Linked DNA regions of Homo sapiens. The protein of the gene in region 4 interacts with the protein of the main gene of each other region in a pairwise test. Each region holds a gene or a part of one and is shown on either strand. Other genes may lie near its edges.

Region 1 (8,068 bases), on a different chromosome or scaffold from region 4:
TTTTTTACAAAAATATGTTTCCAGCTCTGAACTCCAAGAAACTTTCAGAATATTGTTGAAACATGCCTGTTCCTTTCCCTAACATTCGCAAATTGCATTTTGCATTTCAGTTATAGACCTACTGAAGTTTAAAATGGCTGGAAATTATTTCAAATCTAGAACCTCAAATGTTTCAGAAGAAATAGAGTATTATTCCTGAATATTGGCAACAGCGTTTTCCATTACAAAAAGTATACAGATGTTCCAAACACACTTTTAACCAGAAAAAATGATGTGTTGACACTTAGTTGACTTGATTCTTTTCACCTACATATGAACTCAATCATTTCCCTTTGTCTCCCAGTTTAAGAGATTTACCAAGGTATAAATACTACCATAGGTGTATGTGTGTGTGTTTTTTCAAAAGGTCTGTCCAAATGATGAATATTTTTGACTTCCTTAAAAACTAAGTAAGCAAGCATTAGATTTCAACCTAGGAAAGAAGATTTTTAAATATCCCCTTACCCTAATGTCAGCTGCTACCCACGACCTCTATTGAAATGTTCACGACAAAAGGTCACAGGGTGCCCCATCCCCTCCTAAACAGCAATGGAAACGGGCACACACTCACTGCACTATTCTTCTTAATCTCTATTGGAATCTACCCCATGATACCAAATTGAATATAAATTGTAACTGCATATATATCTATCAAAAGTTTAAATTAAAAAGTAGAGGAGACAGATACAGGGATTTTTTTGAATGGGGTTCAAAAATCTGCATCAGAATATTAAACTAATTACTACTACTAACCCTTCTCAAATGAAGTTGGAGTTTCAATATTACCACAGTCTCAATGTTTGCACATGTTTTACCCTATCAGGGGCACAAGCTTCATTCTCTTTAATTAGGATAAAGACACTGTTAGGGAGTAACTGGGCCATAATTAAGAGTTATATTAGGGAAGGATACACTTTATTAGACTTGAATACTTCTCAGATCAAAAACTTCACCACCATTAGTAGGACATTCCTAGTATAATACATCACTTCCTTTGATGATCTTGGAACTAGAAAAGTCAGATGTTTACAAAGACAGTGATCTCATCGATTCCTGACCACCTTCAAAATTAATATTTAATTGTAACTTAATGAAAGAGCCACACTGAATTTTCTTACCAATTTACCAGATTACATAAAAGAGATTGCCAAACACCGTATTACGCAAAATGAAAGCTAATTTAAATGTATTAGACTCTAGAGTGTGGAAATGGAAAAATCTTGCATTTTTATATGGAAGGTGTTTGTGGAACTCCTTGAGAAATAATATGTTAGAATACATCATTCATGTCTTGGTACGAAATCAGAAGACCTAAGGGTAATATAAATGTATATGAAGAGTTTTATGTTTTTTCACTCACATGAATAGGGGATTGGATAAAATCATAGCACCATATGATTAATACTATACATACCAGGTTTTGTTTGAACTCCAATTCTCATTCTACTCACCATGCACTACACACTGCACAAGGATCACTCTTTCTCTAGAGACAAACCCAACACATACCCACACAAAAAACCCTCATATCCAAAAGTAAAGGATAACCAGACAATCTCTAAGATAAGAACTCTCAAAAGTATGGATCCGCCTTTCCTATCGCTCAGCCTCCTTAGTCTTGACAGCAGAGTGAAAACTGTTTTCTACAGGTGAAAGCCCTAAGTCTTCATCAAAGCCATACCAGGGACGGAAAGGTAGAAAAGTATTAACGCTAAAATCTCACGCCTAAGCTTTAACACCCTTCCGGAACAGTAAGACAGAACTAGGCCCATCAGAAATTCTACATAAAATCAGTGACCACTAGTCACTAGTCTCCTAGTGCTTGAAACTCTGAGAAAGCAATCAAGCAGTCCCTCATTTTCCTGAGATTTTTGGGCTGGCCTGAGCACACACAAGACCAACGGAGTCAAATTAAGTTGGCAATAAAACAAGCGGTTCCAAGAAAGCAAAAACTATTTTCAATTCCACATCTCCAAGACGCCTCAGGCTACAGTATTCAATCGATACAAATGACATTCACAACAGAAGCCGATTTTGCAAAGCCCTTGGAACTTAGGGGTCTGCGTCAGCACTCTGGAACGTCTATGCTTCCTAGGACCAAAGAATAAACAAAGATAACTCAAGGCATAAGGCGATCCAGCACCTAAGATCTCAGCAAAAAAAAGCTAGGTCCTGAGGCAGCTAGTGGAAAAACAAGAGAAGGGAAGTCAAAAGGCTACTTGCTGTCAGCTAAAGCCAGGTCAGTACTAATCTCTACTTTCCTGGACATTGGTACAAAAAGCAATGACAAGGCCATCAGTCCCCTGTTCCCCTCGCTCACTATTGTGTGTGTGTGTGTGTGTGTGTGTGTGTGTGTTTTGTTTGTAAGAAAATGCTTATAGTGGCTTCCCGCCCGCGCAGAACACAGCCAAGACTAAACTTTTAAACCTTGAGGAAGGTGGGAAAGTCAGCCAGCCAGACGCCGGCCTAGGAAAAGTAGGGAGAGAAGGAGGGAAAGAGTCATGTTTCAAAACAAAGGCTCCACACGGAACTGAATGTCAACCCCTCTCCACTTCCCAGCCTTCAAGCCAGCCAGGCTGGGCCTCGATTTTTTAGAAGCGGAGTAAGTCAGATTCACCCGGCTCTCAGCGTCCACTGAGGCTTTGCGATGCACGAGAACACGGGCACAGCCACCTACTTGCTGGGGCTGCTGCTAGCCCCCCCCCCCCCCAACCACCCCCTTGAGAAAAAACGGGCTTGGAACGTCGGAGACTTGCCCAACGTCCCACACTAGAACCTGAATTCAATTCCTTTCACGTCCGGGCAAGGCCAACGCAGGGCGGGCACCGGGCGAGGGCCGCGGGAGCCGAAATGGCAACGCCCCTGACCTGAGAGAACCTCGGGCTGGGAGAGGGGAGGGTCCCGCGCGCTCTCCCTCCGGGGCCCTTACCTTCCTTGACTCCAGGCAGCTTGGACTGGTCGATGCTGACTTCAGCCATACCGGGCCAGGGTCCCGGTTGCCCCTTTAACGCGGGCTTCCCGGTCACCGCCGGCGCCGAGCGGGGCCCCGAGCGCAGCAGCAGCGCCGGACGCGGCGCAAAGTCCGGCCGGCAGGGCTCGCAGGCCGGAGAACGGAGCGGGTCGGGCGGGCAGGGGCTGGTGACCAAAGCAGCGGGAGACGGTCCCCGAGGCACCAAGCTGGCGGCCCAGCTGCCCCGCCGCGGCCACCTGCTCCGCGTCCCCGGCCCCAATCGATACCAAATATCCGGAGCCCGGAAATGGACCGGGGCCGTCCAGTACGGAGGGAGAGAGGAGACAGAAAGGCGGGCGGGCCGGCTGGGGGAGGGGGAGCTGCAGGTCTGTAACCGCAATTGCGAGTGGCTGGCGAGCGAAGATCAGCGCCCGCTGCCGCCTCGCTGTTGTCTCCTTTGTGCTCAGTGACGCGCCGCCTGAGGCTGGGGCCCCGCTGTGCTCCCGCCCCCGGGCCCTGCCCCCCTCCTACGGGAGGGTCGCGTCTTTAGGTGGGGGCCTTGTATCCTAAAGGCCTCAACAAAAAGGCCACACGGGTCACCTAAAACATAGTCTTTCCCGTGAGCGGTGTAGTCAGCATTCTGTGGTCTGGTTCTGGGATTGAGATTAACACAGGATGTTTACTGCATGCTTGCCTCTCTCTCATACACTCTTTTTGCACCCGGAATTAGAGGAGAGATGGTAGATGGCCATAAAAACCCCAAATACAACGTACAGAATGAAGAGCAGCTGATAAAATTCTGGGCCAGTTTGGAGTAGAGTGTGTACACAATCAGCTGGGAGAACTGAGTCATTCATTCATCAAAATCGCATGAATGTGTCTACCAAGTGTGATGTTAGGTACTGTGGGTGATAACGAGGCGTCAGACTTATCTCTGTTATAGCGCTGCACACATTGGATTGTAATTGTGACATTTCTATCTCTCTAAAATAGACAACCTCTCCTGTTTCATCTCCTGGCAACAGAATGCATCCTCCTTTTGGGAAACTGCCTCTTTCCCCACTCCTCAGAGGTGAGCTTCTCTCCCAAACGTGTGCCATGTCTGAACCTCGAGACTACCCCATCACTCTTCCCCCTTCCTCCACCGACATGGGTTCATCGAAGGGTGGCTGGGTGACCAAGACAGGTCAAACAGAATACTTTCCTGGGTACATAAAGAGTTACATATTCTGTTTCTTGTGGAAAAGATCTGCCTCTAGGAGATGATGAGGCCAAACTGAAGACAGAAGCAAAGAGAAGAGAAAGGGAGATGAAGAGGGCATGTTCTGATGTTACCACAGTAGCAAAGCAGGATATCCCCAGAGCAGCTGGCATTTCAGCAACTCCTGGATTCTGGGATCTACAACCCGCAAACTCTCAACTTATCCTCAGTTTTGCTTAAGCTAGTAATAGTTGATTTTCTGTCACTCACAGCTCAGAGTCCCAGTATGAGAGGCCACGTAGGGGAGGTTTTATTTGAACTTGACATTGAAAAGTAGGTGGATTTTAGGCTAGCAAAAATTTAGAAGACTTTCAAGGCCAGAGGGTAGCAAAGTATAGCCCACAGGCCAAATCTACGCCACTGAATTTGAATGACTGTTTTTTATATGTTCAAATAATTACATTTCAAATCACTACATAAATAGGACATAATATTTTCGACCTTGCCTCTTAAGCCTCAAAGTCTAAAATATGCTTTACAGGAAAAGTTTACCCACCCCAGTGCTAGGCAGAGATAACACTCAGCAGGTTAAATGTGGGAATAAGAAGGAAGTGGTATTAGAAAGGTAGATTTATGGGAATTTTTTAATTGTCCTGTAATCTAGTAATTTTTTTTAACTTCCTGTGGTCTAGAGAATATTTATAACAGCAGTATTTTCTGTTTCCCTCCCCAAATCTATCGTTTCTACTTCTCTACCAAGCCGTGCCTTTGGATGCCTACAGATAAATCACTAGGCCCCTTTGACCTGTGGCTTCCTGTTGTGATTGACCAATGGGAAGCACTGGCAGAAAATCAAAAGAAGGGAGGAGAGAAATATCAGAGTATTCTTCTTTCCTTTAACCCAAAATTTTGGCCACAGTCCTGTCCCTCTATGACTACAGGGCCTGTGTAGAGGCCTCTTTTCCATGGCCTCAGCTCTCATGGGTCTCTAATAAAACAATTTGTTTCCAGTGTCCCTTCAGGCCTAGAGTGTGATGGCTTCCCCTAGTTCCTTTTGGCTCACTGCAACTTCTGCCTCCCAGGTTCCAGTGATTCTCGTGCCTCAGCCTCCCGAGTAGCTGGGATTACAGGTGTGCACCACAACGCCTGGCTAATCTTTTGTATTTTTAGTAGAGGCAGGGTTTTGGCATGTTGGCCAGGCTGGTCTGGAACTCCTGGCCTCAAGTGATCCGCCCACCTCGGCCTCCCAAAGTGCTGGGATTACAGGCACGAGCCACCACGCCCGGCCTCCCCTAGTTCTCTTAACCCAGTTAATACCTCTGAAATTGTCTCTTCATTACATTCTTTTCAGTAAAATCACTTACAGTGCACCTCCTGTTTCCTACCTAGACTGTGACTGTTACAGTAAGATATGCCAAAAGTAAGATATGCTTAAAATATGATGTGCTTACAGTAAGATATGCATAAAAATATCCACATTTCTGGCCTAGAGAAGAAATGGAAACATATATAATAGCCACAACTATTGTTTAGAGAATCGGCTGCTTTCAGCAGAAAAAGTAATGAAAACCAGGAGCCCTTTTCAGGTACTAGAGCAGATGACCTGGAAATCCACCCCATAGTTGGGCTTTCCTTCTCCTACTCCACACCTGTTCTGTATAGGTCCCCAAGCTGAGCAAACAATTAGAGCTCAGCATTACAGAGTAGGCAACTTCTAGCAAAGGACTGACAGTAACACGGGGAAGAGCTAGTATCTTTTGAGTATTTATAGGGAATGAACATATGGTGAATTTCTGTAACAAGTTTACATCTTTTGGTGTCCTGAAATGTCCATTTTGCAATAAAAGAGAAAGCATAAGGCTTCTCAGGATGGATACAGATCCCTAATTTGGGGCAGATGCCAAACAAGTAATTCAGCATCAAATCACAACTTGAATGCCATAGAGAGAAATAAGGATTTTATTTATAAGGCAATATGGAGGCATCAATTGATTTTTTTTTCTAGGTGGATATTACATGATACATTTTCTACTTTTATAAAGTGAATTTGGTAACAATAAAATGCTTGGATTGGAGTAGGGAGACTTTGGTCATAAGAAATGAAAACTCCAGTTTGAAAACTACCAAATTCCACAAAAGCATCCCCCAGTTAGAGCTTACCTTACTAGAAGGTAAGCTCTGTGAGGGCAGGGGTTTATCTGTTTGATTCCCTAATATCCGCGTATCTAGAAAAGTGCTTGGCACATAATAGGCACTCAATAAATATTTGTTGCATAAATAAATAAATATAGTTATCCAATTTTATTATCAGTAAGAATCACAAATTAAAAGTAAGTTAAAAAAACAATATAGGCAAATGAATAAATTACACTGGACCTTGGCAAAACAGGAAAGGGGACCCACAGAACTATACTTCTGGAAAGAATTATCTGTCTCCTTGGCCCCCAGTGCTTCCTAGCTCATCAGCATAATATACCTAAGAGAACAGTTCCAAAAATGAGGATGCAATTAGAACTGTTATTCACTTTCACCAAGAAGACTGTATGAATATTCTAAGGTTGCCATAACAAAATACCACAGACTGAATGGCTTAAATAACAGAAATTATTATATATGTTTTTCACAGTTCTGGAGGCTAGAAGTCCAAGAGCAAGGTGTCAGAACATTTGGTTTCTTCTGAAATCCCTCTTTTTAGTTTGCAGATTGGATTAGGGCTAACCCAAATGTCTTCCTTAAAGACCCTGTCTGCAGTGCAGTCCCTCTGAATTACTGGAGGCTAGGGCTTCAACATGTGAATCTTAGGGACAGATAATTCAGCCCATAGTAGAGACTATTAGGACAATAATCCAACCGTACAGTTTAGGCCTCTTTACTCCAGGCCTTGAAGCATTTTTGTCTGGACTCTCATAACATATGTAAGTTCCCCAACCCTATTCATGCTCTCAACTTTCCTCAGTTGCTCAAGTCCCCTCACCCTATGGAATTCACTATCAGTTACTCACAAAATTCCCCATATCTCCTTTGTAACTATTCCCTTTCCCTTCTTTTCCTACTGGAACTCAGGGGTCACCTGGGGACATTGCTCTTCCAAGAGCCCTCTAAATTAGAGGCTGTTTCTTCTAACATACCCTAGACCCCATTGGACCTGGAGGTGCCATGGTTTTTATCTTATTGCCTTTTTTAGAACATATGTCTTTCCTATTTTTAAATATTTTCAACTTCTTTAAAGCTCATATCCTCAAATTCTGTCACCTACTACATACCCTTATTGCAATTATCTGTACACTTCTGGGTAACTTCTTACTCCTTACAGATGAGACCTTTTTTTCTCACTCTCTGTCATCACAGAACACTTGATGATTTCAGTGTATACATAAACATACAGAGTCATTCCTTCTGGTAACCTGATCTCTCTTTCCTTGACTTCCTTATTAATATTATTTTTTTTTCCTGAGATGGAGTCTCACTGTGTCACTGAGGCTGGAGTGCAGTGGCACAATCTCGGTTCACTGCAACCTCCAACTCCCAGGTTCAAGCGATTCTCATGCCTCAGCCTCCCAAGTAGCTGGGATTACAAGAGTGTACCACCACGCCCAGCAAATTTTTTGCATATTTAGTAGAGAGGAGGTTTCACCATGTTGGCCAGGCTGGTCTTGAACTCCTAATCTCGAGTGATCTACCTGCCTCAGCCTCCCAAAGTGCTGTGATTACAGGCATGAGCCACCACGCCGGGCCTTGACTTCCTTATTCTGATGAGCTTATACCCCATTGTATTAGCCTATTCTCACGCTGCTAATAAAGACATCACCCAAGACCAGGTAATTTATAAGGAAAGAGGTTTAATGGACGCCACATGGCTGGGGAGGCCTCACAATCAT
Region 2 (7,329 bases), on a different chromosome or scaffold from region 4:
TTCCTTGAATAATCATTCTAGGTTCTGATAAGAGGATTTGAGATATGCTTTTAAAAAGCAGCCATTTTCTCTATCATAACAAAGTGTGCTGGAGAATGATTCTTTACCTTCATAGAGTCAGGAACCTCATTTAAATACGATGAAAGCCATGGATCCTCTCTCTCCAGAGAAAAGAACATATTTAGCACACAATTTCAGGGAGTTTATGAAGTCTAGAGTAAGAATTTCTACCCCTGAGACCTTATCTTTTACATCCTGGTATTCTGCTTTTACTCTCTGGTATTCAATGTTTTTTAAAAAATGAATTCATAATACTTCAAGTGGTCATTATCAAATTAAAGAGCATTATACAGAGCTAAATTAGTTCTAAATACACCACAACAGTAGGTGTTCATTTTGAAAGGGGCTTCATATAACACATAAGCAATGTGAAATAATATTTTGAAATAAGAATGAAAGGTAAATCTTAAAGTAGGACATTAACAAATATTCTAGACAAAATGTACTGCCTCTAGGAAAAATGTTAAGGTCCGATTGTATACTTAGTCAACTGTGAATCCAGAATTAAAATATAATAAGTATTAGTGATCTTCACCCTATGTATTCTTTCTTCATGTTAGAAAAATATCAAAGAATATTGTTTCCTAAGTCTCATCTGTCAATCATTAATTAAAAATAGGAACACAATAAACTGTATAATTTGATCATAGATACTAAACATTACTTACTAATGTATGGTACATGTTTCCACAAGGATTAACATGTAAAAGATACTAAATATTACTAATGTATGGTACATGTTTCCACAAGGATTAAACTGTCATCTAAAATCTTAAAAGATTAATAATTGTCAAAAAGCTTACCATTTGGGGGATCTCGTCTTTTCTCTGTTAGAAAATAAATTAGAAGAATATTATTAAATATATGTAAGACAACATCAACATAAAAAAATTAATTCACTAAACTGTCTTATTCCTAAATTGACATACGTGTGACTAAGGAAGATTTTTCAGAAGACCCGACATTTAAGTAGAGATCTAAATAAAATAAGTAAGGGAACAATACATTCAAAGGCCCCAAGGAGGGTGCAACATGAAAGAACATCATGAAGACTGGACTACAGTGAGCAAATGGCACAGTGAAAGGAGACAAGAAGGAAAGTCAGGGACTAGATCATGTAGGGTTCCACAGGCCATGGTTAAGGACTATAGATTTTATGTGTATATGATAGGAAGCTCTTACAGAATTTTAAATAGAGAAAGTGATATAACCTAATCTACAATTCTAAAAGTTTACTCTGGCTACTGTATAGAAAAGAGATAGTAAAAAGGATTGAGTAGCAGCAGGAAGACCAGTCAGAGAGCTAGTGTGGCAGCCCAGCTGACAGATCATGGTGGCCTGGATTAGGATGGTAGCAGCAGAAATGGTAAGAAATAGTCAGACAGGACATGTTTTTGAAGGCAGAGTCAATAGGACTCTGATAGGATTTATGAGGGACCATGGTGAGCCTGAGGGATAAGATGGAACAAATGCCTTTTACTGAAACAAGGAAGATTAGTAGAAGAATAGGAACAGATCTGAGTGGGGCTAAGGTTCAGGATACAGGACATGGATCAAATATTCTGCTCAGACCGTGTTAAGTCTAAAGGCTATTCTGCCACTTGAGTAGACAGAGTCTGAAGGTCAGGGAAGATGTGTCAGTACTGAAGAAAAAACTTTGAGAGTCATTGGCATACAGTTTTTGGAACTATAGGACTGGATGAAAGCACATGTTCTTTCTTCTGAAACTCATCTGCTTAAGATGATTTTGGAGAGGTTCCCCTTTCCTAGTCACCCTTCTCCACTTTACAAGAGAAACACCTGGTTCACTGTTGTCAAGTAATAGTTCTACTCCAATTAACTTAAAGCTTTATACTATCCTGCATTGTTCTATAATTGTTTTATATGTGTTAGAGTTGTTTCACACACTAAACTAAGTTCCTTATGGGTTTTATAGTATATAGCATTAGGAACAAAATAGAAAGACAAGGCAATGTTTACAGATCTTGTTAGCAACTCTGCTTATTTGCTTCTAAGCTTACCTAAAGTCTTTGTTTACAAAGTATAAAATACTTTTAAAACTTTACAAAAAATGCTATCACAAATGCAAAATTAAAAGTCAATATATATGAAATTTTATCAACAAAAAAGGTTATTGTATTGGGCCCTTCGGTAAATCTAAAAAAAATAGTTCTCAACAAAAATATTATTTATTTTAAGGTAAGGACCACCAAATTTTTTTGTAAATAGTAAATATTTCAGATAATAATTTTGGCTTTGAGGACCATATATCACTGTCATCACTATTTAACTGTGTTGTGACAAAAAATAGCCAAAGACAACATGTAAACCAATGAATACAGTTAAGTTTCAGTAAACTTTTATTTACAAAAAACAGGAAATGGACCACACTTGCCCCATGAGCATTAGTTTGCTGGCCTGATTTAAGTAATTAAAAAAGGGTTACCAGATTTCCTTTGTCGACGGCCCAAAAGGTCTGTAACTGCTTTTCGAAATTTTTTTGCTTCTTCTTCATTGGCAAAATTAAGAGCAACTTGACAAGTCTGAAATATTTTCATCACAAAGGGGAAACAACAGAATGTATGAATTTAGCTTTATATCATAAAAACAATGAGGAAAAGAAGTATATTTCTAAAGAACGAAAGGTTAATTTTACTAGCAGATAAGACATTATTTTATGATCTGAATAACTTAACACAAAAGCATGAAGAAGTTCAAGTAAAAGATTACTATTAGAGAAGTTACCTATCACAGCAGACACATATACTAATTTGAATATTTCATCTTCAGCAAAAAAATAAAATAGCAAATTGAATTTGATCTTTCAATAAGGTTCTATAAATAATTTGGATTAGAAAAGGCAAGCAATGAAAAAAGTAAAGATGGCAATAAAGAAAAATATGACTTACATCTCCAGCAAAGGTATGAAAATATCCTCTAGGACTATTATATACAAAGTTATTGTATAGCTCTTGTTCCCACAATAGTTTCCCATCCTAGAAAAAAGTTAAAAATTAAAATAAGAACTACCAAAACATAATCTCTAGGAATAAAACAAAGAAGATGACTCATATTAAGAAAACTGTTTATATTAAAAATAACTTTTAATGCACACATGTAACATATTTATAATATATAAATAGTGTCACATAATCTAATCAGTAATTTCTTAAAACTGAAAACACTGGATAACGTATCTTTCATAAAACCTACATATCAAGTCAGTTTAATTCAGCTAAGATATAATCTCACTAGCCAACCATTTCCAAATTCAGCTACTTGGTCAAATACATAATAACCAGAATAATTACTAGGTCATCAATGTTACATAGAAGGAATAGGATACTTTTGTACATGAACTGATTACCAAAGCACAGTTCCACCAGCAATATTTAGACAATGTACTATCAAACACTGCAGGAATACTTTATGTTCTTTTCCTCAATTTTATAGATGTGGGAGGGTCAAATATACCTTCCTTGTACTGCTAATTAACCATCTTCAAATTCTTAACTTTTGCAGAGTACCTTTCTAATTATATACTAGTATAAGTAGTATTAATCATGATGCAGAAAGAGACTGATAATTAAAATGTATCAAGGTTAAACTATGGATAAGAGTGCCATGATGGCTGCCATATCTATTGCCATAGTATAAAAAATATGTTTAATCTTAATACCAAAGGTGACGAATTATGAGTGTCCAGCAATTGGAAATAAGTGGTTAGAGAAAGATAGTCATTGCCCTATTCAGAAATGCAAGGTTCTACCTAGACCACAATTTAAAAATATGTAAAATACACTGTTCACACATTATAACCACTGCAATGGAATCCCTTTCTTCTTAGTGGAGTAGTAAGTGTATGCCATTTCTAAATAGTGCTTCTCAATGGTTATGAGAAATATGTCAAAGCACTTGGGGGTTTCTTTCAAACTACGTATGTGTTCCCCACCCCCCAGAATCACTGCCATAGTTAGCCACTGCTAGTGATTACTAGTAAGCCACTGCTAGTGACAGAAGCATGTCATATCTCTCAGCTGTCTTGGAAGCAGACATTAAGATGCACTAATTTAGCCCGGGACTGGTGGCTCAGGCCTGTAATCCCAGCACTTTGGGAGCCTGAGGCAGGAGGATCACTTGAGTCCAGGAGTTTGAATCCAGGCTGGGCAAAACAGCAGAACCCATCTCTATAAGAAAATACAAAAATTAGCCAGGTGTGGTGGCATGCACCTGTAGTCACAGCTACTCAGAAGGCTGAGGTGGGAAGATTGCTTGGGCCAAGGAGATCAAGGTTGCAGTAAGCTGTGCACTCCAGGCTGGGTGACAGAGCAAGAGCAAGACCCTGTCTCAAAACAACAACAACAACAACAAAAGAAGCACTAATTTACCAAATACCATAACTGAGATCTCATTTAATCTCAGTGAAATACCTCATAACAAACCAAGATGGTTATCTGATTTTACAAATAAAGCTGAGACCAGAGGTGTAAAAATCTCTTCACTGTTATCTATCAGGTCATATTAGCGCCCAAGAGTTTAAAGGCAGTTTTAGTTTTTTGTAATTAAAATCTCATTGCACTTATTGCCACATATAAATATTAATCATGGAGGCTTACTTACAGAAAGGTTTTTTAAAAAAATAATGGAGACTTCATCTTAGCAAAATATTTTTATGACAACTGTAAGAAATGAATACCTAACAAGGTATTCAATCTATAACAATGTGATTTATGATTGGAAGGGAGGGATATAAAGCTATGAAAATCTGAATATATCTATCATGAGAAACAATATAAGGAAAAATGAGTAGCAAACAGATTTTTATAGATATTGAAATGTTTTAAACCTGGGCTAAATAACAGTACATACTGAGCTAAAATATTATTTTGTTGTTACCTGAACAGACTATCTACGCTATTCTATAATGAACCAGGTGGAATAAAAGAGTTTCATTAAAAAAATACAGAGTGTAAAGAAAGCCCAAGAACCAACAGGCATAATTTAAAAAAAAAAAAAGCCTTAATGCGTGGTAGCAGGAGAAAGATAAAATAGGAAACTATTCACATTCTGGCTTCAGACATGTTCCCATTTGGTCATGATTTCCGTATGCAATATCTAAAAACCAAGCTTCACTCTTCTAATATTAGTTTATGTATAAATTTAAATATCACATATAGGATAAACAAATCTAAACTAAATTATAATTGATATAGAAAACCTAATCACCTAGTTTAAAGTGAAAGCAAAACAAAACTCACCTTAATGTCAAATATTCTTAAAAAATAAGATCTCTGTGGATTGTCCTTAACAAGACAAGCAACACCACTGCACTTCTTTGACCACATACAGTTCCGATCTGCTGCATATAACTGCACCACTGCTGAAGACATAGTCTGCAAAATATAAAATTTATAACCATTAGGTTCAAAATAATATGTAGATGATCATAGCCCCTGCTGACAGCTTGACCGCAACCACCCAGCTAAGCTGCTCCTAAATTCCTGATTCACAGAAACAAGGAAATAATAAACATGTATTGTTATTTTAAGCCACTAGTTTCTGAAGTAATTTCTTATGTAGTAATAAATAACTAATACAATAATCACATAACAATAATTACTGAAAACATTTATTGATGCTTAAAATGTGTTAGGAAATGTGTTAATCACTTTTAAATATAGCCTCATTTGTTATTACTATGATAACTTCATTTTTTACTTGAGAAACCCGACACTAAAGGGGTTAATTTGCCCAATACCACACAGCTAAATGGCAGAGCTGAAATTCCAAATCCAGGCAATTTGTGACTTCAAATCTAGCATTCTTACTCCCCCTATTACACTGTTTCCCAATAAAGTGAACACTTAAGCAATGAAGTAGTAGCATTAGTAATGGCTGACTTGTATAAAGCAGTTAAGCACTTATCTAGATAAGGATTGAGACAAACTTGAAAGCAGTATTACCACCCTGGAAGGCAGATTATAGTATCTCCTTTCTAAAGTGAGTTTAAGATTGTAAGTGATTTGCACAAGTGGCCACGCAGTTTTAATGCTATACTGAGGATATGAAAAAGATTTGAGTGACTATTGTCTCAATTTTACCAAGGATAGTCCCTAAATAGAACCCTTTCAGATGTATAGGAGGGAAGCTAACTCGTTACATGCAATGGACACTTCAGGGCATTAGGATTTTCCAGTACACCATGTTGCCCCCTTCCTCAAGACTATATCATGAAAAGGTGTAAACTAATTTTATTCTAAATTAAGTTTACTTTATAACCTAGAATGTAACTATTCAACCTTAAGTTTCTATGAAAGTGATACACACTTACACTGATAAAGCACTTACAAATCCTCTGAAAGCCATAATTATGTTTTCTGATAAAGTAATTTCACTTCTAAACTAGAAATTAAGAAAATCATTTAGAATATAATACTTCATATTTTAATATAAATATAAAAATAAAATATTTCATATAAATATATATTTTTTTAAAGAGGAAGAACTGAAATAACCTAAAATAGGAGCTGATTAAGTAATTATGGTACCTTAGTTCAACGGAATTTGGGCTCTGTAATAAAAAATAGACTACATTAAGATTTGAAGATATGCTGTTTTAGGTTTACTGAACTATGCCTGAGGGGTGCCCTTTTTTGGTAAGAGGAATTTCAAAGAACAATTATATGCACAAATCTTTTATAATTAGATACTAAATTCAGAAATGTAAGATCAGTATACTGTTAGGATCAAAAGTCCATAAAGACTTGCTCAGATAACAATGTTCAATGTTATGTTTTTAACATTACAGACCAAACTCAACCTTGAACTTCACATACAGTACTGAGTAGGACACAAAGGAACAGAAAAATTTCTGCAAGAGTCAATAAAAATTATGATAACTTAAAAACAAAAAATGTGTATCCTGGGACACTGGGTTTCAAAGAGGAGACTGAAGAATGTGGGACACTTTTTGGCCTGCTCAAAACACACTTGTGTTTGCAAGTGCACAATCTCAGGATGATAGTGCCACAGGCATCCTGCTGCCAGCACTGAAAACTTCAGAAAAATGCGTCTTGCATACACTATCTAAAGGTACCAAATACCAGGCTGAAGAATGCAAAAATCAAACAAGCAATTTGTTAGTTCTAAGGAGAATTCGCATAAAGTCTTTTTTAGTATGGTGCTGTCAAAATACATTCATTTCTAAAAAGATAGCAATTAGGAAACTAGATGTACCAAAATGAAGATCTAAAAATCTCCCTACTTCGC
Region 3 (7,708 bases), on a different chromosome or scaffold from region 4:
ATGGTAAAATCCTGTCTCTAATAAAAATACAAAAATTAGCTTGGTGTGGTGGTGCACACCTGTAGTCCTAGCTACTTAGGAGGCTGAGGCGGAGAATTGTTTGAACCTGGGAGGCGGAGGTTGCAGTGAGCCGAGATCGCACCACTGCACTCCAGCCTGGGTGACAGAGTGAGACTCTGTCTCAAAAAAAAAAGAAAAGAAAGAAAAACTAGAGTTGAATCTCTTTGAGAGCAAGAACTATATCTTAAGCACTATAGTTTCGTTTGCACATGCACACACATGCACATACAGAGTCAGTATTTAAGCAACTGAAATGTATGCTGAACAGTAGCCAGTTCCCGTCCCTTAGCAAAGTCATTTCCCTGGGATTGTTCATCTCCCATGGCAACAATACACAGTAGGATGTGTTGGAAAATGGTTCTCATTTTCCACAAGGAGGAAATAAAAAGCCAGCCCAACAAATATAAGGCATCACCTGCACTGCCAGGTCCCAGCAAGGAGTCCAGGCCTGGGCCATTCCTGGAAGCACTTACACAAAGACAAAATAGAAAACTGGTGACAATGAAGGCTGTTCAGACCCTCAGCAGGGTAGCTCAGGACTCTGCCTCCATGGCACAGGGGATGAACCCTGACAGCACTCATTGGAGAATAAATGGACATTATTTTGAGCATGTAATTGGATTGGAGGTTGTTTTCCAATAATATGCAAAGCAACTTATATACTCCACTCCCAGTATTTGTTACATAGTATTAAAAATATCCTTGTGGGTTCTGCGACTTCGACAAAAATCCCCTGTATCCCTTGGATTATCCCTGAATAACTTATGCTATATGCAAGTGTAAGTAACTAGAACTCTTAAGATAAATAAGTAGTTTGTGACCATCCTGGCTAACATAGTGAGACCCCGTCTCTAAAAGTAAATAAATAAATAAAAAGAGAATAAATAATGTGCAGTCACTGACTTTTAGGCTGGTCATCTGGTTTTGGCAAAAGGACATAGATTTGCAATCTAAGGACCAGTGTTCAAGCATGGGCTCGTACCTAACTAGCTGTGTGATCTTCACAAAACCTTTACCTTTCCTAGTCTGTTTCTTTATCATCACTTATGAAGAAATCCCTCACAGAAACCACCCTGAGGATTAAATGCTATAATGTAGGTGCTTTGCAAACTGTAAAGCACTGCCCTGGGCTGGGTGTGTGGTTCACACCAGGAATCCCAGCACTTTGGGAGGCTGAGGCAGGAGGATCGCTTGAGCTCAGGAGTTTGAGACCAGCCTGGGCAATATAGGGAAACCCTGTCTCTACAAAAAAAAAATTTTTTTTAATTAGCTGGGCATGTTGGTGTCCACTTGTAGTCCTTGCTACTCAGGAGGCTGAGGCTGGAGGATCACTTGAGTGTGGGAGTTCAAGGTTACAGTGAGCTATGATCATACCACTGCACTAGTGAGACCCTGTCTCGGAAAAAAAAAAAAAAAAATTGTAGGCTGGGTGTGGTAGCTCATGCCTGTAATCCCAGCACTTTAGGAGGCCAAGGCGGGCAGATCACCTGAGGCCAGGAGTTCAAGACCAGCCTGGCCAACAAGATGAAACCCCGTCTCTACTAAAAATAGAAAACATAGCTGGGTATAGTGATGGATGTCTGTAATCCCAGCTACTCGGGAGGCTGAGGCAGGAGAATTGCTTGAACCCAGGAGGTGGAGGTTGCAGTGAACTGAGATGGTGCCACTGCACTCCAGCCTGGGCAACAGAGACTCCGTCTATAAAAAAAAAAAAATTGTAAAACACTGGCCAAACATCAGTCACCTACTGTATTGGAAGCTTGGAAGCTCTAGGGCCTGAGGCCTGACATAGTGCTGGTGCTCAATATTTGTAGTATAAATAAGGAAATACTTGTAGTATAAATGACTAAATTACACCAATGAGCTATATGATCTCAAGCAAGAATAATTCATATCTGTCTCTCTTTGGCCTCCTCTGATATTACTTTCCTCCTTGTTCACTGGGCTCCAGCCATGCTGTCGTTTTTCCTGTTCCTCCAACACATCATGCTCTCTCCTGCCTCAGGGCCTTTGTACCTGCTGTTCTCTCTGCTAGAACACTCTTGCCCAGCTCTTTGCATGGCTACGCCTTCTCATTAATCAGGTCTTAGCTCAAATGTCATTTTCCCAGAGGCTTCTCCTGATGCCACCCTGATTAATGTTCCTAACACATCATTCACCTGAGATGCAATCCTGTTTTATCTTCTCCTTAGCACTTATTATTGTTAACTTTTTTTGTTTTTGAGATGGAGTCTCGCTCTGTTGCCCAGGATGGAGTGCAGTGGCACGATCTCGGCTCACTGCAAGCTCCGCCTGCTGGGTTCACACCATTCTCCTGCCTCAGCCTCCCGAGTAGCTGGGACTACAGGCGCCCGCCACCACGCCCGGCTAATTTTTTTGTATTTTTAGTAGAAACGGAGTTTCACCATGTTAGCCAGGATGGTCTTGATCTTCTGACCTCGTGATCCACCTGCCTCGGCCTCCCAAAGTGCTGGATTACAGGCATGAGCCACTGCGCCAGGCCTACTGTTAACTTTCTTATTGTACTCTCCTCCACTACAATAAAAAATACTTTACTACAGCTTCCCTGTCTTGTTCACCACTATATTTCCATGCTCAAAATATCATCTAGCTCATAGTAAATTCTCCATAAGTATTTGAAAAAATGAGGTTGAAATAAGCTAGTAATATTAAAAGCTTCATTCATTAAACAAATGTTTTGTATATACCTAGGAGGGTCCAGGTTCTATTTCAAAGTGCTGGAGATTCAGGTGCAATGACAAGAGACAAAAGGCTACGCAAGGTGGCATGTGCCTGTAATCTCAGCATTTTGGGAGCCCGAGGCAGGCAGATTATGAGATCAGGAGTTTGAGATCAGCCTAGCTAACATAGTGAAACCCCGTCTCTACCAAAAATATAAAAATTAGCTGGGTGCCGTGGCATGTGCCTGTAATCCCAGCTACTCAGGAGGCTGAGGCTGGAGAATTGCTTGAACCCGGGAGACGGAAGCTGCAGTGAGCCGAGATCGCGTCACTGCACTCCAACCTGGCGACAGAGCAAAACTCTGCCTCAAAAACAATTTAAAAAAAGAAAGAAAAGAAAAGAGACAAAAATCCCTGCCTTCCTGGGGCTTGCCTTCTAGTCGGGAGACAGACAATAAGCAAGATAAAAGGTAAAATATAAAAGAAATAAAGCAGGAAAGAAGGACATGAAGTGTGTGTGGAAAAGTAACATTTTAGATGGGATAGCCAGACAAGGTATTTTAGATAGAGTAGCCAGAGAAGGAAGTGGGAGACTGAGCCATGAAGATATATGAGAGAAATTCACCCCAGGAGGCCTGGATAACTGGGACAGGAATTAAGGAGTTGGGGACTGAGTAACACATCAGGATCAGGGAGGTTAAGGGAAGTCAGATTGTACAGGGCCTTGTTGGTCGAAGTAAGGACTTTGGCTTTTTTTTTTTTTAGTCGGAGTTTCGCTCTTGTTGCCCAGGCTGGGGTGCAATGGCGCCAGCTCGGCTCACAGCAACCTCTGCCTCCCGGGTTCAAGCCATTCTCCTGGCTCAGCCTCCGAGTAGATGGGATTACAGGCATGTGCCACCACACCCGTCTAATTTTGTATTTTTAGTAGAGACGGGGTTTCTCCATGTTGGTCAGGCTGGTCTCGAACTCCGGACCTCAGGTGATCCGCCCCCCCTTAGCCTCCCAAAGTGCTGGGATTACAGGCGTGAGCCACCGCGCCTGGCCGGACTTTGGCTTTTACTAAGAGTGAGATGGGAAGCTGTTGGAGGATTTGAGAACCTAAGCGTCATGATCTGACTTGTCATAAGAGGATTCCTGGAACTGCTGTGCTGGGAATGCCAGTGAGGTTGCTACTACAATAACCTAGGCAAGAGATGGTGGCTCCCAAAGACACGGGAAGGAGCAGCTCTGGGGTTGGAAGATAAAATTTGGGGTCTGACAGCTACATTGGAGAAGCCTATTAGCCATTCGAGTGAACTGTGGAAGAGGCAACTGGATGTATACAGGTCCGGAGTCTCGGGGAAGATCAGAGCTGGGAGCTGGCACTTGGAACTCAACAAATAGTATGTATTATTAGCAGTAATATGGAACCTTAGCTGTACTACTACTTACTAGTAGCGAGCTCTTGAGTTAACCATTTTTAGGTTCTGGGCCTCAGTTTCCCTGTGAATGAAATGGCGAAAACACTCCCACATAACGGGACCTTGAGAACGAAATGAAAAGTATCAAGGGCTGACCGTGAGCAAGGTGAGAGCCATGAGCCAAAACCACACGAGCCTCTCCGGGAGGGGGGGGTCACTGCTGCGGAATCAGCGACAGGTTTCCGAATCCACGGCACACGCTCTGAGGTACCAGAGGTAGCAAAGCAAAATAAGCGCGGGGTCCCGCACGGCAGCGCGGGTGCAGCGCCCAAACCTCGCGAGATTTGTTGGCTGGGCCAAGTACCACCCACCAAATCTCGCGATACCTAGGCGCCTGAGAGGCTCTCTACCGGTGAGGGTTTGCGGGGAAGATGGAGTATCCCGCGCCGGCCACGGTGCAGGCCGCGGACGGCGGAGCGGCCGGGCCTTACAGCAGCTCGGAGTTGCTGGAGGGCCAGGAGCCGGACGGGGTGCGCTTTGACCGCGAGAGGGCGCGCCGCCTGTGGGAAGCCGTGTCCGGTGCCCAGCCGGTGGGTAGAGAGGAAGGTGAGTCGGGGGCTTTGGAGGCAGAAAGCCCCTCGCCCGCTGCGCGGCTCGCGGGGAACTGCGGAAGCGCCGACGGTCACACCCCCTGGCCCGCCTCCTTGCGTGCTGCGCCCCGGGACCCCCAGACTTGTGCTCCCCATCCGGGCGCGGGCACCCCAAGAATCGGGCCCCCAGCGCGCTGAGGGTGAAGGGCCGCTCACGCTCAGGCCCTGGGTTTTCCTCCTCCTCCTTCATCATTCACTACAGCGCAGTTTTTCCCACATTCGAGGACTGTCATCCCTATACTCGTCCTGTCGGAGACCTACAGTCTTTGCCATCCCGGTAAGCCAAGCCGAGTGCCCCTCACCACTCCTTGACTCCCCATCGTCCCAATCTCCAGATTTCCTCCTAGGGCCTCTCGCCTCCCTTCTCTCAAGCCCCACACTTCCGAGGGCTCTGGAAGGCCTTCTCCTTACCCCCTGGGTTCCTCCTGGTCTTGATGACTGAGCCCTGGCTTACCCGTTTTTAGCTCTCTGGCCTCTACTTGCTGGGTCCCTTATTCTAAGGTGGGGACAAGGAGCCTGAGAAACTGGTCTGGGTTTGCTTTGGCTCCAGCTTCTTTGTGTCCTACACTTGACCCAAAGTTGCTGAGAACAGTGTATGCAAAGCCACGTTAGGGGTCACTCCTGGGCCGAAGCGCCCCAGCTTGCTCTGCACTTGACCTGAGACTGGGTAAGATGGGATGAAAGAAAGAGAAGGATGGAAAAGAGCTGTCCTGACCTGCTTGTGTGACTCCCTTCACTGTCCTTTACAGAGCCAGCTGCTTGATGCTAACCCAGATGTACAAGAACTCTATCTGGGCTTCTCTGCTAACCTTGTCAGGTATCTGGAGGGAAATCAGATTTCTCCAGTGATTTGTTTGCTTGCTGAGCAGACTTGTCTTCGAAAGTTTAATATGCTATTTGTGAACTGACTGCCCTGGATAAAATTGGATAAAATTGAAATTTTGACCATATCTAAGGAAGGTACACAGACCTATACCCTGGTATATACTTCTCCAATTTAAAAACAAGTCTAGCCTGTCTCCTAAGTTTATATATATATATAATGTATATTATATATAAAAAAGAAGGAGACAGGGCCCCAGAAATGGTGTGTGTGTATGCGTATATATAATATACACACACATAAATGTATATATATAATATATACACACATAAATCTGTATATATATTTTTATATACACTTGTAAGTATTTTATGTATACACACACACACACACACACACTATTTCTGGGGCCCTCTCTCCTTTTTTTTTTTTTTTTTTTTGAGAGAGTCTCACTCTGTCACCCAGGTTGGAGTGCAGTGGCACAATCACACTGCAACCTCCGCCTCCTGGGTTCAAGCAATTCTATACTGCCTCAGCCTCCGGAGTAGCTGGGATTACAGGCTGCTGCCATGACGCTCAGCTGATTTTTGTATTTTTAGTAGAGATGGGGTTTCACCATGTTGGCCAGGCTGTTCTCGAACTCCTGACCTCAAGTGATCTGCCCGCCTTGACCTCCCAAAGTGCTGGGATTACAGGCATGAGCCACCGCACCCGGCTCTCCTACTTTCACACTTGTTTGGTAGTTTCCTCCCCTACCCCAATTTTCCTTTCATTAACTTGACAAACACTCACTGATGCCTGCTCTGGACCCGGAACTGGTTGAGCTTCAGAGCTGGAGTATCAGAGGAAGATACTGCCCTTGCCCTGGAAAGGCTTGCAGTCTAGTCCAGGAAGCAGACACCAAAACAGTTCCAGTGTAATGTAAAGGATGCAGTGCTGAGGAATGTTTTAAGAGTTGGAGGTGCACAAGAAGAAAGTGACCTTTGCCCTGGATCTTGAAGCAGAAAACCACTGTGCTCTGAAAAGTGAACTGTCTGCTATGTGTATATGAGTGTATAGTGGCACTGTTATGACCCATTTCATTTCCCTGTTCTCACTTCTCCCACATTTATGTGAAATCTAGGTAGACACCTACAACATTAAGTTCTACTCACCCTTTTTCTACTCTTAGCACCTTCATGTGAGTTACAATTTATATACCATACAAGTCACCCATTGTAAGCATATCGCCAGTGATTGTTAGCCAGTGTACAGAGTTGTATAGCCATTACCACAGTCCACTTTTAGAACATTTCCGTCACCCCAATTAGTTCCTTTGAGCTCATTTATATTAAATCCCCACTCCCACCTCCTGCCCTAGGCAACCAGTGACCTGTTTTCTGTCTTGGGTAGTCTTTTGAGTTTGGCTTCTCTCAGCATGTTTTTGAAGTTCAGCCAAGTCATGGTGTGTATTAGTACTTCATTCCTTTTTATTGCTAAATAGAATTCCATTGAATGAATATAACACATTCTATTAATCCATTCATTAGTTCTAGACATTTGGATTGTTTCCAGTTTGGAGTTTTTGTGAATAGTGCTGCTGCGAACATTCATGCCCAAGTTTTTGTGTGAACATACATTTCATTTCTTGAGTATATCCCTAAGAGTGGAATTGCTGGGTCATATCGTAACTCTGACATTTTGGAGAACTGCCAAACTGTTTTCCAAAATGGCTTCACCTTTTATATTTCTGCCATCAGTGTATGAGGGTTTCGCTTTTTCTATAACCTTGACAACACTTGTCTTTTTTGATTATAGGCATTCTAGTGGGCATGTAGTGATATCTCATTGTGGTTTCCTAAAGACTGATAATACTGAGCAACTTTTCAGGGGCTGACTACCCATTTGTAGATCTTTGGTGAAATATCTATTCACATCATTTGCCTATTTTGTAATTGGGCTGTTTGTCTTCTACTGAGTTGTAAGAGTTATCTGTGTATTCTGGGTACAAGTCTTTTATTATAGATATGATTTCCAGGTATTTCCCCCTGACTGTGACTTGTTTTTTCATTTTCTAAACAGTGCCTTTTGAAGCACAAAAGTTTTAAGTTTTGA
Region 4 (7,329 bases):
GCTGGAGTGCAGTGGTGTGATCACACCTTCACCTCCCTGGTTCAAGTGGTTCTTCTGTCTCAGCCTCCGAAGTAGCTGGGATTACAGATATGCACCACTATGCCCAGTTACTTTTTGTGTTTTCAATAGAGGTGGGGTTTCGCCATGTTGGCCAGGCTGGTCTCGAACTCCTGGCCTCATGTGATCCGCCCGCCTGGGCTTCCCAAAGTGCTGGAATTACAGGTGTGAGCCACCACACCTGGCCAGATTTACTTGTTATTTGAGAAACAGTAGGAATTGTGCCCAGGAGGAAAGAGATAGTCTTAGTGAAGGTGGGCAAAGACAGGATGATCTTTTAGATCAATAATGTGTGTAAGCTCAAAGGCTTGCAAAACTATTGTAAATGAAAACAACCCCTCACATATGGGTCGTCAGTCAGTTCCCACGGGAAATTCAGTGTTATGTTGAGTGGTCCTGAGATTTCCAGGTAACCTCACTGCACTCTTTAACTACAGTATAGGTGAAATATCAGTAGTACCAAGGTAAATTCTAAGACCAGGCAGTGCAGGGAAGGATGTAAAAGAATGATTCCTTTTTCTGGGTTCAGAGTCTGTTGGAGGCAATGTCAGGAAAAGGCACTCTTCTACTGTTTTGGTACTGTTTTCCCCTGGCTACTCACAATGGCAGTCTGGCTGTCTCCCCTCAAGTATTAGCATGTAATATGAGATGCTTCCTCTCTTAGAGATAAAGCTACCTAAATAGAAATTTTACTGAATATGGACGACAGATAAATCCCTAGCCATTCCATTTTTAACAGATATGTGTATTCAGAGGAACTTCTATAATTAATATAATTCTGGCAGAGTGTGAAAGAACTGAAAAACTTTGTGCTCAGTGTTGGTGGAGTGATCACCACAACATTTTAAAGAGAAACAAGTGAGACTGTATGAGTTCCAACTGCTGCTCCATATTTTCCAATGGTAATACAGTCTCTAACTTCTGACCTAAAAACACCCACCCTAAAATCTTGAGGACTCATATGCAAGACCTCTTTATTCTTTCATTCATTCTCAAATACTTAACTGAACACTATGCCAGGTATAGAAACACAGTGGTAAACAAGACAGATAAAGTCCCTGCTTATCTAATTTATATTCTATTACGGGGACAGAGGGGAAAAGTAAAATAAACAAGATAATTTTGGTCTGTGATAAGTACTTCCTAATAACTGAAGAAATATGATGGGAAGCAGACAACCAACTTTAGACAGAGGTAATCAGAGTAGGCTTATGAGTAGCTGGAACATGAAAGATAAGGAGCCTGTGCAAGATCTGAGAGAAGAGTGTTCTTAGCAGAGGGGCTAAGTGAAAAGACCCTCAGGTAGGCTGGCACTTCGGGGAGATGGGCTTAAGGAACAACAACAACAAAAAAGTTTGAGGGGCTGGAGCAGCTAGTGTTGGCACTATGGTATGAGTTAAGACTAAAGAGTAGAAGGGCTCAGGACATTCAGGGTCTTATAGGCCATGGAAGGAAGTTTGAATGATTGGACAGTTTTAAGGAAAGAAGGAAAATGACCTGATTTAAAATTTTTACATTTCTATTCCAGTTACTATTATAAAGCTTATGGGGGCTAGAGTGAGAACAGAAACAGTAGGAGGCCAGGTGGTTTGGACTAAGGCTGTGGCTGCAGAGATAGGAATGAACAGACTTAGGACATATTTGAATTATAGCCCATATAATTTACCAGTGATTTCAATGTGGGGATGAGGGACAGAGATGAATCAAAGATGGCTTCTGGGTTATGGGTTGAGTAGTTGGTTGGATAGTATTGTGAATACTGAGATAAGAGTTTGTGGGGAGGAATAGATTAGGTCAGTGAGTCGTGGTGGTCTTTGAGGGACTGAGGAGGACAGGCATTCTGAAAGATTTTAAAGAGAAGAGAAGAGGGCAGTTTTAGCTAACTTTGGTTTAAAGTTCCCAGTTAAGGTTGTGATATGGGACATTAAAGAGGTCGTTTGTGCACTAAGAAGAATATGCAGGGAGCCGGGCGCGGTGGCTCACACCTGTAATCCCAGCACTGTGGGAGGCTGAGGCAGGCAGATCACTTGAGATCAGGAGTTCGAGACCAGCCTGACCAACATGGTGAAACCCCGTCTCTACTAAAAATACAAAAATTAGTTGGGTGTGGTGGTGCGTGCCTGTAATCCCAGCTACGTGGAAGCTGAGGCAGGAGAATTGCTTGAACCCGGGAGGCAGAGGTTGCAGTGAGCTAAGATCGTGCCACTGCACTCCAGCCTGGGTGATAAAGCAAGACTCTCTCAAAAAAACAAAAAAAAATTAACAAACAAAAAAGAATAAGGGAATTCTGTGATCTGGAACTCAGAAGAATTTCATTTCCTTCCTTCACAGGGTTGTTATGAACTAGACTGGTCCAACAGGAAAGTATGATAGATGTGAACTGGGGCTTCTTTTCAACCTTTTCCGGAAGCTCTCAAGCTGTTCTTGTGGATAAGACAGAGAATATGTACTCCAATGCAAAGACTTTTGGTTGAATTATAACTGGCTGAAGGTATATCCAGATGGTGTGGGTTAATGTTTACTAGGTTTTCCTGAAAACTTTGCCTTTGGCTGCATCCCATTCTGTGTCTTGAACGAAGGTATAGAAGGCATCATCTCATAAATTTGGTGGAAGAGATATTAAGTATGTCTGATCTGATGGCAGATTAAAAATTCAGAAAGGTCTTGACAAATTGGTTTGATAGGCTGAACTAGCAAGATGAAATTTAATAGGAATCAATCTAAGGTCCTGCGCTTGAATCCAAGGTTTTCCATCCAGTCAAGTATAGAGCAGAAGAGACAGGACTTAGGATAGCATTTCTTGGAGGAGGGGGAGACCAAGAAATTTAATCATTCCTAAGTTCGAGGATACACTGGCAGTGTACTAGATCTGCTATGAAAGCTAATGCAATTTATATGCTCCAGTGATAATATCTAGAACTGGGAAAGTAACACTTGCGTTTGACTGTGTAATAGAAATTAAGTTTATTTTTCTTAATATGCCATCCAGGAATAAAGATAAACCAGCAGTCCCTTCACAGACTCATTAGAATGGCAAAGGCTCAAGCCCATCCCCTGGGAGTTAAGTTGAAGTAACTGGGAATACAGAACCAGGAAAAGAGAAAACTCAGTGTTCACTTTATATCTGTGCCATTGAAAGGGGATTGGAGATTTCCCGATGGTGCCCAGGGCAAAGCCAGGGCCAATGGATGGAATTTACAAGGAGAAAAATGCCAAGTCAGAGACATTTTAAAAATTGGAGGGCCTGCCTTATGTAAAGTTACTGACAGTATTTATGCGTTGATGGGATGTGTAGAAAGAATTCCTCTATCTCATAGTCATTGAACCAGATGACCTTTCAAGATCTTGGCAACCCTGAGATACATGGATAACTCTTTTTCAGCTTTCTCTTGTTGTCACAACCGTTTGCCTTTTTCTACTTGGTGGTTCTCAAGACAGCTGAAGAGGAGATAGCTGATGCACTGTTTTGGTTCCACAGGTGTCTGGTTTCTTAAGTCAGGACCTGCATATGCTGCTGGTTGATGAGATTTGTAAAGGACCTCCCTTTTCAGCACAATGACTGATGGTATTTCTTGCATTGTTGTTGTCTCCCAGGTGACTGTAGGACGAGGATTTGGTGTCACATACCAACTGGTATCAAAAATCTGCCCCCTGATGATTTCTCGAAACCACTGTGTTTTGAAGCAGAATCCTGAGGGCCAATGGACAATTATGGACAACAAGGTACAGGAATTCACAGAAGCCTAATGACTTTTATTTGTTTTTAAATTACTTTTTTTTTTTTTTGCATAGGTAATTCATGGTATAAAATTCAAAAGTATAACTTCTTCTTTCCTAGCCATCCAGTTCCCTTTTCCAGAGGCAGCCACTTCCATATGCTGCCAGAGATTCGATTATGCTAAAATAATTTCTCTTGATTTGGGTTAAAGTTTGTTAACTTGAAGAGAATACCTGAATTGGGGTAGTAGGTCCTATTCCAGAAACTAGACTAAGTTACTGGGCAAATAAGCCTGTTTGAGGTGAAGCTCCCAGAGACCCTGGGAATCTGCAGAATCTGCTGACGCTTCTGGAGTACACTTATGGCTCAGTGGACAAGGGGAGGAGGGAGAAACTGATCTGATTGCGCTTAGCTCCTTTCCTTCCTCACTCCTTTCAATCTGAGCAACCTCCCCTGGCCTTTAAAACATGTTTTAAATATTGGTGTTCCGAAGATTTCCTTTGAATAATGGGTTTTTCTCCTTTAAACAAATTTGAAAACCACTAGTTTAGTGGTAAATATATTGAGGGAGGTGCAATAGTATATGAAGCCCAGCAATTAGAAAGTACCTAATGTGCTGGGTGTGGTGGCACATGCCTGTAGTCCCAACTACTGGAGAAGCTGAGGCCAGAGGATTGTTTGAGCCCATGAATTCTGGGTTATAGTGTGCTATGCCATTCTGGTGTCTGCCTTAAGTTCGGCATCAATATGGTGTCCTCCTGGGAGCAGGGGACCACCAGTTTGTCTAAGGAGAGGTGAACTGACCCAGGTTGGAAGGAGGGCAGGTCAAAACTGCTGTGCTCATCAACAAAGGGATTGCACCTGTGAATAGCCACTGCACTCCAGTGTGGCTGACATAGTGAAGCCCTGTCGCTATCAAAAAGAAAAGAAGATACCTAAAGTGCAGATATACAAGCACCGAGGAATGTGATGAAAATACAGACTATGAGGTGAGAGAAATTCTAACATAAACAGTTAATGTTTAGGAAGTATAACATGTCTTTAAGTGCCATTTCATATTGCTTCACTGCCCCAGTTAGGATTTTAAAGGTACCATTAGAAGGGAGGGTATCCCACAGGTCTGCCTGCCATCCTCATATTGCGTGCATAAAACTGCTAGATTTAAGCTGTTGGAAAGTATCTTCCTGCTCTAGAATTAAGTTGAGTTGGCACTGTATTGAAGGAGACAGTACATAAATGCTAAGTAAATCAGTTCAGCACTTTTAGCAAGGCACCATGAGCAGGATAAAAATTGGCACTGAGATTATCTACTTTAACCCCTTATGTAGACAGATGAATCTGAGGCCCAGAGAGATAAACTGTCTTGCCCAAAGCCTTCTCTATAATGAGCCAGGACTTAAGTTTCTCTGCTATGCCCTGTGTCAAGTATCAGTAAAGTATGTAAGCAATTTGCTATACTGGCTTTATGACGTCAAACAATTAATTATGCATATTTAAAATATAGCTGCAAGGTTTTAAAGCCTCTGTAATAGCGTATATCAAAACAGCTTAGGAAAAGATGTTTTCCTCATCAGAGTAGGCTGTATGAGAGTTAGGATTACAATATTATAGAGGTGAGTTCTCTGCTGCTGCTTTTCTTAATTATGTGCAGTGTAGATGTGATCCACTTATGGGATTAGCAGATTTTCATAGGTTGGGAAGCCAACAGCTGATCAACTTCAGTGTTATTTGAATTTCAACCACAGGGATACAGAGGCAGCCTGTGCAAGATCAGATCATGACTGTGCTCCGGGCTCACTCTCCAGTGTTTGCTTTGTACCCTTCCTTCTAGGGTTGCTGTTATCATATGATTCTTCTCAGGTCTCAGTCAGGCAATAGAGAGGAAAGATAGGTTTCTTAACAACCTGTTTAAACTTTTTAGCTGTGATTGTTTGTGAGATAACTGATTTAATTTTAAGAGAAGCTAGGACTGGGGTGTTTTGATGGAACAATTCTTACAAGTAAATCCCCCCTGCCCCCTGCACTTTTCTTTTGACTACAGATGCCCCCTTTCTGGCTTCCTCCTGGCATGATGCCATGGCAGCCCTCTTCTGCTGATAAGAGACCTGAATTTCAGCTGTAGGGTATTATTGCTGTGGTTGTGTTTGAAGTCATTTGCCAAATCTTTTTCAAGAGATAGGTGTTTCTAACAAGTTAAAAACTCAGAGCTGCATTCTCTTATCTGCTGGAATGGCCAGAAAGTGAGAGCTTAAGTATAGATACAAAAATTGCAAGAAATGTTATTTTGGTTTAAAATTGGCTTAAAATATAGAAAAAAACCTTGGAGGACAGCTAAGTCTGCACACAGTATGAGGATGGTTCTAGTTGTGTAGGTTTTGGTCAATTCATAAGCTTTTCAGATGGCCCGTCCTTTGTATTGGTATCCAGCTCTTTCAGAAAATTGGTTGTTTTAAAGTCACAGTATGAAATGCCTTAGAGGTTCAGTCACGTCTTACTTGAGCCTTTCCCATTCTTACCCTCCTCTCCTGTTGCTTTTCACCTGCTGCCTGGTGATTCCTACCTTTGTTCTTCTGCAGACTCTGGCATTTGAAGTCCCTGTTGAGTGTACTCTTACGTGAACAAAGTTTGCTGTTTGGGACAGTTCAGCTTCTGGTCCTCCAGCAACTAGAGCAGTGGTTATCAACCCTGTTTCCAGTTTTTACTCTCACCTGGGGCACTTTTTAAAAATACTGATGGTAGTACAATAAAAGCGTTCATTCGTCAAAAAACACCATTAAGAGAGTAAAAGGCAAACTCAGAGGAAGATGTTTGCTACACATTATAGTCAATGAAGGGTTTATACTGAGGTATCTGCAGAACTCCAATAAGAAAAAGACAGATATGCCCTATTTAAAAATGAGCAAGAGACAAGCACTTCACAAAAGGTTCTATCCAATGAAAAGTTGTTCAACCTCATTAATAATCTGGGGAATTTAAATTAAAACCATAATGGAATACCTCTACACATTCACCAGAGTGGCTAAAATTGAAGACTAGTGATGCCAGGTATTGGTAAGGATATGGAGTGATAGAATGTTCTTACCCTTCTGTTGGGAGTGTAAATTGGTACAATTTGGGAAATTATTTGGCATTATTCATTAAAGTTGAACATACATATAGCTCTTGACACAGTATTTTCACTCCCCGGGAAACAGCCCAAATGTCCATCAACAGTAGAATGGATAAATTGTGGAATAATCTTATATTGAAACACTATACTATAGTGAATATGAATGAACTACTATATCTAATAACATGGATAAACCTCACATAATATTGAGTGAAAGAAGGCTGGGCGCTGTGGCTCACGCCTGTAATCCCAGCACTTTGGGAGGCCGAGGCGGGCGGATCACGAGGTCAGGAGATCGAGACCATCCTGGCTAACATGGTGAAACCCCGTCTCTACTAAAAATATAAAAAATTAGCCAGGCGTGGTGGCGGGTGCCTGTGGTCCCAGCTGCTCTGGAAGCTGAGGCAGGAGAATGGCATGAACCTGGGAGGCGGAGCTTGCAGTG

The links.
Region 1: the proteins of RNF8 (region 4) and CCDC50 interact in binary tests that used the Homo sapiens proteins (3 or more experiments, as listed by UniProt).
Region 2: the proteins of RNF8 (region 4) and WASL interact in binary tests that used the Homo sapiens proteins (3 or more experiments, as listed by UniProt).
Region 3: the proteins of RNF8 (region 4) and ZNF346 interact in binary tests that used the Homo sapiens proteins (3 or more experiments, as listed by UniProt).

The regions. Positions count from the first base shown.
Region 1 is NC_000003.12:191,324,624-191,332,691, reverse strand, and holds the start of CCDC50 (coiled-coil domain-containing protein 50 long isoform), read right to left. Parts: upstream 3,299-8,068; 5' UTR 3,018-3,298; coding exon 2,969-3,017; intron 2,279-2,968; exon of another isoform or gene 1-2,278.
Region 2 is NC_000007.14:123,703,771-123,711,099, forward strand, and holds part of WASL (actin nucleation-promoting factor WASL), read right to left. Parts: intron 5,454-7,329; coding exon 5,319-5,453; intron 3,057-5,318; coding exon 2,970-3,056; intron 2,604-2,969; coding exon 2,507-2,603; intron 888-2,506; coding exon 864-887; intron 1-863. UniProt on the Homo sapiens protein: Regulates actin polymerization by stimulating the actin-nucleating activity of the Arp2/3 complex. Involved in various processes, such as mitosis and cytokinesis, via its role in the regulation of actin polymerization.
Region 3 is NC_000005.10:177,018,167-177,025,874, forward strand, and holds the start of ZNF346 (zinc finger protein 346), read left to right. Parts: upstream 1-4,529; 5' UTR 4,530-4,572; coding exon 4,573-4,747; intron 4,748-4,993; coding exon of another isoform or gene 4,994-5,068; intron 5,069-5,540; exon of another isoform or gene 5,541-5,553; coding exon of another isoform or gene 5,554-5,608; intron 5,609-7,708.
Region 4 is NC_000006.12:37,356,795-37,364,123, forward strand, and holds part of RNF8 (E3 ubiquitin-protein ligase RNF8), read left to right. Parts: intron 1-3,651; coding exon 3,652-3,780; intron 3,781-7,329. UniProt on the Homo sapiens protein: E3 ubiquitin-protein ligase that plays a key role in DNA damage signaling via 2 distinct roles: by mediating the 'Lys-63'-linked ubiquitination of histones H2A and H2AX and promoting the recruitment of DNA repair proteins at double-strand breaks (DSBs) sites, and by catalyzing 'Lys-48'-linked ubiquitination to remove target proteins from DNA damage sites.